Homo sapiens: one gene and its partners. The protein of the gene in region 3 purifies or fractionates together with the protein of the main gene of each other region. This does not show direct contact. Each region holds a gene or a part of one and is shown on either strand. Other genes may lie near its edges.

Evidence for each region.
Region 1: the proteins of DEFB106A (region 3) and IL37 purify together in Homo sapiens (affinity purification with mass spectrometry, with the first as the bait; one large-scale study listed by BioGRID). This does not show direct contact.
Region 2: the proteins of DEFB106A (region 3) and EMC8 purify together in Homo sapiens (affinity purification with mass spectrometry, with the first as the bait; one large-scale study listed by BioGRID). This does not show direct contact.

What each region holds. Positions count from the first base shown.
Region 1 is NC_000002.12:112,916,570-112,919,413, reverse strand, and holds the end of IL37 (interleukin-37), read right to left. Parts: intron 2,286-2,844; coding exon 2,166-2,285; intron 1,780-2,165; coding exon 1,637-1,779; intron 854-1,636; coding exon 605-853; 3' UTR 532-604; downstream 1-531. UniProt on the Homo sapiens protein: Immune regulatory cytokine that acts as a suppressor of innate inflammatory and immune responses involved in curbing excessive inflammation.
Region 2 is NC_000016.10:85,789,545-85,793,044, reverse strand, and holds part of EMC8 (ER membrane protein complex subunit 8), read left to right. Parts: intron 1-111; exon of another isoform or gene 112-748; coding exon of another isoform or gene 749-823; intron 824-3,500. UniProt on the Homo sapiens protein: Part of the endoplasmic reticulum membrane protein complex (EMC) that enables the energy-independent insertion into endoplasmic reticulum membranes of newly synthesized membrane proteins.
Region 3 is NC_000008.11:7,823,697-7,828,025, forward strand, and holds the start of DEFB106A (beta-defensin 106 precursor), read left to right. Parts: upstream 1-1,442; 5' UTR 1,443-1,480; coding exon 1,481-1,529; intron 1,530-4,329. Other genes in the region: DEFB105A (beta-defensin 105 precursor), read right to left, coding at 73-142. UniProt on the Homo sapiens protein: Has antibacterial activity. Acts as a ligand for C-C chemokine receptor CCR2.

The DNA of each region.
Region 1 (2,844 bases), on a different chromosome or scaffold from region 3:
AGTGATAGGACCATGCCCTTGTTGACAAGCCTCCCAGACAGTACCTGGCTCCTCCCTCACCTGGTCTCCTGGCTGTCATCTGACCCAGATTCCTTGTCTCTGTGCCTTTCCCACAGGTCAAGTCACCCTGCTCCTTATCTGGGACCTAACTACCCCTTTTCCACTATCACTTGGCTGGATTGTGACTTGCTGTTACATTTCTTTCTTGCACACTGTACCCTAGACACAGACTCAGCCACTTCTGCCCCAGGATCAATGCCCTCAGAATCTACCAAACCCCAGTAGGAAAGACTAATTCTAGAGCACAGCATGCACCCAGCTGCTCCTTCCCACTGCAAGTATTGCACTCAGACTGGCCACATCATAGCATATGACACACACATGCATGTCTGATGGTTCAGGGTAGCAGTACACAAGCAGAAGCCGGTCTCTTTCCAACCCAGAACTTTGTAATTAAACAAGCTTCTTGCTATATCCTAAAAACACAAATCCTTAAAGCATGAATGAGAAATGAAACCCAATGACAGAAAGTTTAGTGAGCAGGTTTGGTGTTTTTATACAATTAGTTCAAATTAGCGAGGAAGGCGTTCAATGGGGCAGTTTCCTAATCGCTGACCTCACTGGGGCTCATTTCAGCTTTGCAAACTGGTTGAAATGAAAATTCAATGTGTTTCCTGTTCTCAAATTTATCTGTCACCCCAACAGGCTCATTACAATTGCAGGAGGTGCAGATGAACCATCCGGGGTGAGCCGCCGACTCCAGCATGTTCCAGGAGCCCACCTGAGCCCTATAAAAGATGAAGGGCCGGCGTGCTGATTCCTTTTGGGCAGCCAGCTTCATCAGTTTCTCCTTCTGTGAGGTAAAAGGGATTAATTAGATAGCACAGGCTTTGAGAGGGAGGAAAACACAGCACATGTGCTCATCCTCCAGGCCTTTACACAGGAGAGGAGGAAAAGAGAGAAGGCAGATGGTCCTTGGGAAAGATGACGTGTCAGCCTTGGTACTGGTATTTAAGGGATGATAAGCAATCCTGCCCTCTTTTCCAGGCCTTCTTGTCCCCCAGATTAAAAATAAACTGAGAGAGAGAGAGAGAGAGAGACGTAAGAGTCAGATGGATACCAAAATCTCAGCTCTATAGTTTTTAAAATTAGAGAATATGGCTTAGATCTGTATCTAATTCAGCTTCCTAAGATTTCTCCCCTCAAGTGAAAGGTGCTCCATCCAGGACTAAATTTGCAGGGCAGACACACTGCCCTCCGAGTGCTCCCTCACACCCTCCTACCCTACAGCAGCACGCCAGGGTCCTGGCCCAATTGTGTTGCTTGCCACATGGAGGGCCACAGCAGGAGGGGACCGCCACCCGCCCAGGGCCAGGACCAGTGAGCCCAGGAGAGGAGAACAGGTGCTCAGCTCCTTGCTGTCTCCCCGCTGTGAGGAGTCTCTCCTCCTTCCCTAGAAGGGGCAAGGAACCAGAGAAGAAGTTATGGGGCTCTTCTGCCTGGTGCTTCCAGAAAGGTGGATGTCCCTGTTATATTGGCCAAGATAAGAATTTGCAGGAAAGCGAGAGGCATTGAGGATCTTGGCCTTTTACTTTGGGGTAGCCAAAGGCCCAGGAAACTGAGCTAGAACTCTCACCTTCAGCTGAAGGGATGGATGACTTTGTCCTTTATCCTTGTCACAGTAGAGACAAAACTCCCCTTTAGAGACCCCCAGGAGAATCGGACTTCCTTTCTCCGCAGAGGCTGAGCTCAAGGATGAGGCTAATGCAAAGAAGATCTCTGGAAAAAGACAGTCAGAACATGTGTGGGTTCTGAGAGCAGGGAAAGGTCTCTCCTGTCTGCTGGGGTTTCAGGCCTGATGCACAGTCCCTCTCCCTTGACTCTGTGGTCCACTTCTCCCTCCATCACACTGGTTTAAGCCTCCTCTTCTTCCAGTCTAAGTGTCTGCCTCCTTCTTTTTCTCCAGCCCTTCCAGAAAGACTACTTTCAGATCTGGTCATTGCTAGAGACCCTTCATCTGATGCCCTAGTCCCTGGGGCCTCTCCTCCTCGCTTCCACCACCTGCTGGAGATGGGGCATGGTATAGCATGGAGTTGAGCCCACCTAGCAGGAGGCCTTACCCCTGCTAGGTGGAGGCAGAAAACACAGCCAAAACTGAGAGTCACCTGGGCGTATGTAGTTTTTATCTGGAACTGCTATGAGATTCCCAGAGTCCAGGACCAGTACTTTGTGATCCTGGTCATGAATGCTGAATTTCTTCGGGTTTAAGTTCTTCACCTTTGGACCTAGATCAATATCACCAGATATCAACACTTCACATTGAAAATGGAAGACTCAGCCCTTTCTTCCCCACGTCCAAGGGCCCCAGCCCTAGCTCTCCACCCTGCCTGTGGGCTCAGACATCACAGCCACTGAATATTTCTTCCACTCCCAGGCTTTCTATCTTGCTGGGACAAGCAATTAAGCTTTCTGTGCAAGCAAATGGGTTCCAGATTTGGACAGATAGATTCAAATCCCAGCTCTGCTGTAGGACAGAGGACAAGTTACTAAGTCTCTCCAAACCTCAATGTCCTCATCTGTGAAATGAAAGTAATAGCAGCACCTACTTGAGAGAGGAGTTATGAGAACTAAAATGCTTACTCAAATAAGTAGCACTTAGCCTGAGCAAAGAAAATGTCTGGCGTATAAAAAGGACTTTTTATAATCATTGTTTTTCTTAACTCTCTTTTTTGCACCCTCTGACTGGAGGCATCATTCCCTCAGCAGTGCCTAGAGTGGAACAGATCCCTGCACTGGCCAGGCTAAGGGAGCGGTGATGGAAGAGTTGGGAGGGTTGGAGGCAGG
Region 2 (3,500 bases), on a different chromosome or scaffold from region 3:
GTGAAAATGTCCTTTCTCTCTAAAAAGTAAATGAAATTGCATGAGTAAGTGCAGAATGCGGAAGGTGTCTATATCAGAGTCAGTTTGACTACATTGACAACAGTCTCCACAGAGTTTTCTCCTGACCTTTTATTTTCATCTTGATTTTTCACAAGATGCACATCAGGGTGTGGGGTGTCGTACAGCGAAGCAGGGACATGGAAATGGATTCATTGGGAACAGAGGTTGAGTGGCTTCTCGGCTGTGCCTTGTCTTGCCTCGCTTCGGAGGAAGCTAGTTGCCTTGACTCCTAGCTGCCACTTAGATCCACCGCAGCTTTTCATGCAGGAGCCATTTGGGCTGAGGGCAGGATCCTGCAGCCACTGGAGACCTGGCTGCCACACCCACACCTACACCACCAGCAAGCCCCATCCTCTTCCCCCAGCCCACTCCACTCCAGGGCACTCTCACCTGATGCCTAGTTCCAGATTCCGGACTGTCACAGGAAACTACCCTTATTAGAACTCATCCACCCTGCCGCTGTGAGTGCTGAGGCTTGGCCGAGTCTCCGTTCCTCCCTTCGAGTTCTCCATTCCTCAGTTGGTGAACGGGCTGTGTGCACCCCTCATAGCCATCCATACAGCTAACTTGGTTATTCTCATGTGTGTCATTCAAAAGTTCTAAATTCTAAAGCCAGGCCAGAGCTTTTGTGACCTGGTTCGCTTTAAGGGCAACCTCTTCAAAGAGGTTCTACTTAAAGTTCCAGGTCATGACATTTTTCTGCTGGAATTTGGTTGGGCCCTTGGAGTTTTCTTACAGGAATTTGTCCCTCAGCAGGCAAAATGTAAGTTGAGATATACATGTGTTTGTCATAGGAATCATCTTTTGTACCAGGTGGTTTCTGTGCTCTGAGAGTGGGTACAAGGTGATACCATATGTGTTTACTGGGCTATGAGTCCTAACCAGGTGGCTTCAGCCCAGGAAAGAGATGGAGTAGCCAACTGAGACTGCTGCTGGGGGTCTTCAGGAAGTTGCCTGTAGCTAAGTAAAAAATATGTCCTATGGTTTTTCCTAGAAAATGTTGTATGGTATGGTCAGCTGAGTAATAACCCCCCAAATATGTCCACATCCTAATCCCCAGGCCTTATGTAGCAAAAGGGATTTGTAGATGTGATTAAGTTAAGGGCTTGAGGGTGGAGAGAATATCCTGGATTACCTGGGTGTGCCTCATGTAATCACAAAGACCTTTGTAAAGGGGAGGCAGGAAGGTCAGAGTGAGAGGAAGAGATGGATGATGGAAGCAGAGGTCAGAGTGATGTGGCCATGAGCCAAGGAATGCGGGCAGCCTCTAGGTGCTGGAAAAGGCAAGGAAAAGGATTCTCCTCTAGAGCATCCTGAAGAAGCACAGCTCTGCTGACCCATTATAGACTTCTGACCAGTAAGATAAAAAATTTTGGCTGGCATCATCCTCAGCAAACTAACACAGCAACAGAAAACCAAACACCGCATGTTGTCATAAGTGGGAGTTGAATAGTGAGAACACATGGACACAGGGAGGGGAACATCACACACCAGCGCCTGTCAGAGCCGGGGAGCGAGGGGAGGGAGAGCATCAGGACAAATAGCTAATGCATGCGGGGCTTAAAACCTAGGTGACGGGTTGGTAGGTGCAGCAAACCAGCATGACACATGGATACCTATGTAACAAACCTGCATATTCTGCACATGTATCCCAGAACTTAAATAAAAATTAAAAAATAAAACATGCACTTTAATCAAGTACGGTTTATTTCAGAAATGGAAGAAATTAGGGAATTTGAAGTTAGAAAATCCAAAAAATGTATGCATTAAAAATTCTAAGAAAAACAATCATATGATAATCTCTATGGATGGTGAAAAATCCTTCAATAAAATTTATTTCTTGCCTTAAAAAAAAAAAATTGGGCATGGTGGCTTGTGCCTGTAATCTCAGCACTTTGGGAGGCCAAGGCAGGAGGATTGCTTGAACCCAGGAGTCCAAGATCAGCCTGGGCAACATGATGAAACCTTTGTCTCTACAAAAAATTTAAAAATTAGCCAGACAGGATGGCGCACACCTGTAGTCCCAGCTACTCAGGAGGCTGAGGTGGGAGGATCACTTGAGCCCAGGAGTTCAAGGCTGCAGTGAACTGTGATCTCACCACTGCTCTCCAGCCCGGACAACGGAGCGAGACTCTCAAAAAAAAAAAGTGTTGTTTTAAGCCACTAAGTATGTGTAACTTGTCACAAGGGCAATAGGAAACTAAGACAGTGGCCAATCTGACTGTGAAAATAAGGGCAGGCTACACTGGAGAGCAGGGATAGGGACACCCGGGGGGCAGAGATGTGGGTCACCTTAGGGGAGGACACACTCAGGAGGCCGGCCCATGATGGCACATGAAGGCTGGGAGCACGGTGCTCAAGGATCAGCTCATCAGGGAACTTGACCAAATTTAGAGCAAGCCCCTTTGATAGTGTATAGAGATGTTTGTTCTAAGCAGCAATAGAAAGCTTCTGGAATCTGTTCCATTAAGAGGTGATAGAAACAAAATATGAGTCGTTTTGGAGTTGTTTTCAGCAAAGTCACAATGATAGCACCATTATAGATATTTTACAGACATAATCCTGATCTTTTGGGTGGATGACCAGAATGTCTAGTTGGTTCACTGAGCCCTGGTTTTGACCCAATATGGTAATTCGTGAACTCTTAGGAGGCCAGAAATATCCTAATCCTGTGCAAGGCAGGGACCCTTGGACTGTAACTGTCTTGTCTGCTTTTGGTCGTGAAGGAGACTCAGAGGCCCAAACAAGAATTTAGGAAAAAGAGCAATAGGATTGTGTTTAAAAAACACACACATCCATTTTTAACCAGTTTATTCCCTACAAAAAAAAAAAAATCAAGGTACCAATTTTGTTTCCTCTTGTGCAGACTGAGAATAGACTTTATTACAGTGTATTCAAATTCCATTATGCCAAAACAGGATGAGCTTTTGTTGTTTTGAATAATGGCCTTAGACCTGCAGGAAGCTGCATCTGGTGAGAAACATGGTACCATAAAAGAAACCCAAAAACTTCAAAGGTCTGCCACCTTGCTTCCATTTCAAAGCACGCCGGAGAGAACTAAGGACATGTGCACGTGCCCCTTCCTAACTTGGGACCTCTTTACCCTACACCCCAACTGAGGGGTATTTCATGATGCGGTGCTTAGAATGCTGAGATGGAGTATAAAAGACTTTTTTTTTTTTTTTTGAGACGGAGACGGAGTTTCACTCTTGTCACCCAGGCTGGAGTGCAGTGGCATGATCTTGGCTCACTGCAACCTCCCCCTCTGGGGTTCAAGTGATTCTCCTGCCTCAGCCTCCCGAGTAGCTGGGATGACAAGCGCCCACCACCACGCCCAGCTAATTTTTGTATTTTTAGTAGAGATGGGGTTTCTCCACATTGGCCAGGCTTGTCTCGAACTCTTGACCTCAGGTGATCCGCCCACCTCAGCCTCCCAAAGT
Region 3 (4,329 bases):
TTAAGGTCAAACATGGAAGAATCAACAGGCTTTATAATCTGCCCAATCAAAATCCCATCCATTTTTACTTACCTGATGGCAGTTGAACCAAAATGAAGAACATAGCAAATAGAAAATAAAATGTCTTCCTGATCAGGGCCATCTTTTAGGGAAGACTCTTCGGAATAGAGATTGGGATTTCCTTGAGAAGACCCAAATGAGAGGCTCATTTTTATTTAAAAGTAATGGGGAGATGCTCTTGATCCGTGAAGTGAATCAATAAAACACAATTATATGCTCCATTTCCCAGGATAAAGGGATGATATCATGGATAATAACCCTTGGCATCCAGAAAGCCTTTTATTTTGGGGAGTCTAACTGGTGTAGTGGAAAGAACACCAGGCTAGAGGTTGAAAGAGCAGGGGCCATGTGAGTTTCCACCATACTAATGCAGGGGCCAGAAGATAGTGACCCCTTTCATCTCTTCCAGCTTCTGTTTTCTGGGAGAAAATAAGAACCCACTTGCAAATTCTGCCTGCCTCTAAAGGTGTTGTAAGAATCTAGTATGATTATAATGCAAAAGTGTTTTGAATATGTGGAATGCTTGGAAGGAGGCCTGGTACCATGTAAGAACTCAATAAATGTGGACTCTCACTTTTCTAGCTTTCATTTTTATTCTCTACAAGTATCACAGGGAGAAAAGGAGGGGTAGCAATCATTTTGTCAAGTTAGCTCTGAGTCCCCTTTCCTGTAAGATATCACCTCACGCACCAAAGCCATAATTACTGCATATTTTAAATTCATTAAGGACATGAATATTGGCCCAGATGGGTGGCTTATGTCTATTATCGTAGCTTTTGGGAGCCTAAGGCAGGTAGATTGCTTGAGCCCAGGTGTCTAGGGCAAGGCATGATGGTTACCAGCTCCTTGCTGCGCCAACAGTGCCATGGTACAGGTGAGCAGCATGGCAGGACCAAGCACGAAAAGCGTGCAGCATACAGCAAGATTCACATTTTTTAACAAATATATGCTTAGGTCAAGCCCTTTGCCAAGTTTACAAAGCTCAAAAAGACTGAATCTGGAATTCAGATTCCACCTCACTACGGTTCCTCAGCTCTTAACTGAAGCATTGAGATATTGTATAATTACTCCCATTTTACATATGAGTAAACCAAAGCTGTTCAGGAACACAGCCAGGATTAGAAACCAAACTACTGGACTCCAGATTTTTTTATTTTTTCTGTGTCTGCCCTACTCTGTCCTCCCTTCATCCCCACTTTCCTTCTTCAAAACTTTCCAGAATCAGAAATATGATGAGCTGTAGACTGAGTGACACCCACTGAGGTTGGGTGGGCTCTGTGCAGCAGAGCATGGAAATCCTCTCGTTTCTGCTAAGCCTCACTGATCAAGATGTTACTTGGTCTGGAGAAATGTATAAATGTGGGTGTTTGCGGCTCTTTCCTCATGGACACGGTGCTGATCTCTCAAGACCCACCCAGTCATGAGGACTTTCCTCTTTCTCTTTGCCGTGCTCTTCTTTCTGACCCCAGGTAAAATGGGCATCTTTACAGGGAAGGTGATCGGAGGTGGTGTCCCACAGACAGGGTCCCCTTCAGTGAATGCCTGGGCGTGATCAACCCATCTACTACAAGAGGTGATATTCCCCAACGCCTCTTCTGTAATTCCTTTGCATTTTACATTGTTATCTAGGAGGGGCTGTCACAGGTTTGAAAGAATAAAAGAAGGCCAGGAAAGATGCCTTTTGGCATCCCATCTCATGCTCACTAACAAAAACAAAAATTGAGAAAAAATTAAAAACAAGGATAGCAGTCTATGAACCTTTTAAAATGTAGTTATGGTAGAGATTGAGACAGGTAAGGAGAAGGGACAGGTAAGGATCTGAGCTTAGAGACACCTATGCACTCATGCCAGTCATGGCAACAGGTAAAGCAGCGTAACTTGGACTGCCATTTCTTGATCACATATCATCAAGCCAAGTACTGTGATGAGAGCTTCACATAAAATGCATCTAGTCTTCCAGTGCCAGCGCCTTTACGGAAAACTCTGTCTTACCCCTAATTTAATGGAAGTTAGAGAAAATCTTTTTGGGTTTGAAGGTCCATTTTACAAATTTTATTACAGATGCAGAAATTGTGCCTCAGATGGGCTCAGTGCTTCTCAGAGTCTTATAGATAACCAAAACAAAGCCAGGGTAGGAGCCCAACTGTCTTGCCACAGTAAGAGGCATTAAAGACACCCTTCCCATATCAAAACTCTCTTCATTTTCTCCTGCTCCTGGGAATCTCCAGTGGCTCCAATTGTATCCTCTTCAAAATTAAGGCTTAAGACCAGGCTCATGTGAGCCTCCAGAGAGCTGAAGAAAGGGATTCTCAGAGCCCACAGTAACTCCCAATTTCTGCCAGATACCAGTGATATACGATCCCAGGTATGATGCTCAACTTTTCACATCAGCTGCTCATAGCTCTGGTCTGTTTTGTGACAAGCCTGTGAGAGTAGATTCTGTGTCAAAACATGAGGATCTAGGACCCACAGTGACCTATGCCGTATTCAGGCCACTGGTTTTGATATGCACGTTCGAAACTGGCCAGAGGTATCTTTTTCAGATCACTCATACTTATTATATAATAAGTCAAAAAAAAGATGTTATATACTATAAAATTATCTGTTAGATAATACTATAATTATAAAAGTATAATTAGTTACTATAATTATTATGTAATTACAGATACTTATCTATAATTACATAATGCTTGTTATATAATTATTAGATAATCTAATAATTACCTATTAGATATACTAGAGTATAATACTATAATACAATAGTATTAGAGAAAATCTTTTTGGTTTAGTATAGTATTATAGTATAGCATAGTATATACTATAATTATTTACTGATGTTACAGTATGGTATTGTACTAGTATTATATACTATATAGTATTGTACTAGTATATATTATATATATATATATACATATTTTTTTTTTTTTTTTGAGATAGAGTCTCACTCTGTTCCCCGGGCTGGAGTGCAGTTTCACAATCTCAGCTCACTGCAACCTCTGCCACCGGGGTTCATGCGATTCTCCTGCCTCAGCCTCCTGAGTAGCTGGGATTACAGGCATGTGCCACCTTGCCTGGCTAATTTTTTGTATTTTTAGTAGAGACGGGGTTTCACCGTGTTGGTCAGCCTGGTCTCGAACTCCTGACCTCGTGATCCACCCTCCTCAGCCTCCCAAAGTGCTGGGATTATAGGTGTGAGACACTGCACCTGGCCAGATACTATATTATACTAGTATATTATTACTAGTAGTATTATATACTAGTATGTAATATAGTATATATACTAGTATAATACTCTAGTATATAGTATAGTATACATACTAGTATAATACTCTAGTATATAGCATAGTATACATACTAGTATAATACTCTAGTATATAGTATAGTGTATATACTAGTATAATACACAAGTATATAGTATAGTGTATATACTAGTATAATACACTAGTATATAGTATAGTGTATATACTAATATATACACTAGTATACAGTATAGTGTATATACTAGTATAATACTCTAGCATATAGTATAGTGTATATACTAGTATAATACACTAGTATATAGTATAGTGTATATACTAGTATAATACACTAGTATATAGTATAGTGTATATACTAGTATAATACACTAATATATAGTATAGTGTATATACTATTATAATACTCTAGTATATAGTATATATACTAGTATAATACTCTAGTATATAGTATAGTATATATACTGGTATGATAATATAGTATATATACTATATTATTACTAGTAGTATTATATACTAGTACATAGTATAGTGTACATACTAGTATAATACACTAGTATATAGTATAGTATACTAGTATAATACACTGGTATATAGTATATATACTACTATAACACACTAGTATATAGTATAGTATATATACTAGTATAATACTATAGTATACACTATTATACCAGTATATACTATAATACTAGTATTTTTATAGTATATACTAAGCTATACTATGATACTATACTAAACCAAAAAGATTTTATCTGAATACCACGCTATAGTCTATAGTATAGTATTATATTAGTATCTGCCTTACAGTAGGGCAGAGAGAACATAGACCCCTGCCAGTGAGAGCCAGAGTTCATCGAGCTTTGAAATAGTGGAGTATTTTCACTTATGAACTGATGTGCTGATCCTGGATAATCATTAGTGCATATGCTGGCACTAATCCACCTGGCTGTAAGTTTTATGTAGATTTGAATTAGGCACCTTTATATGTTGACATTAAATGTATATACATTAT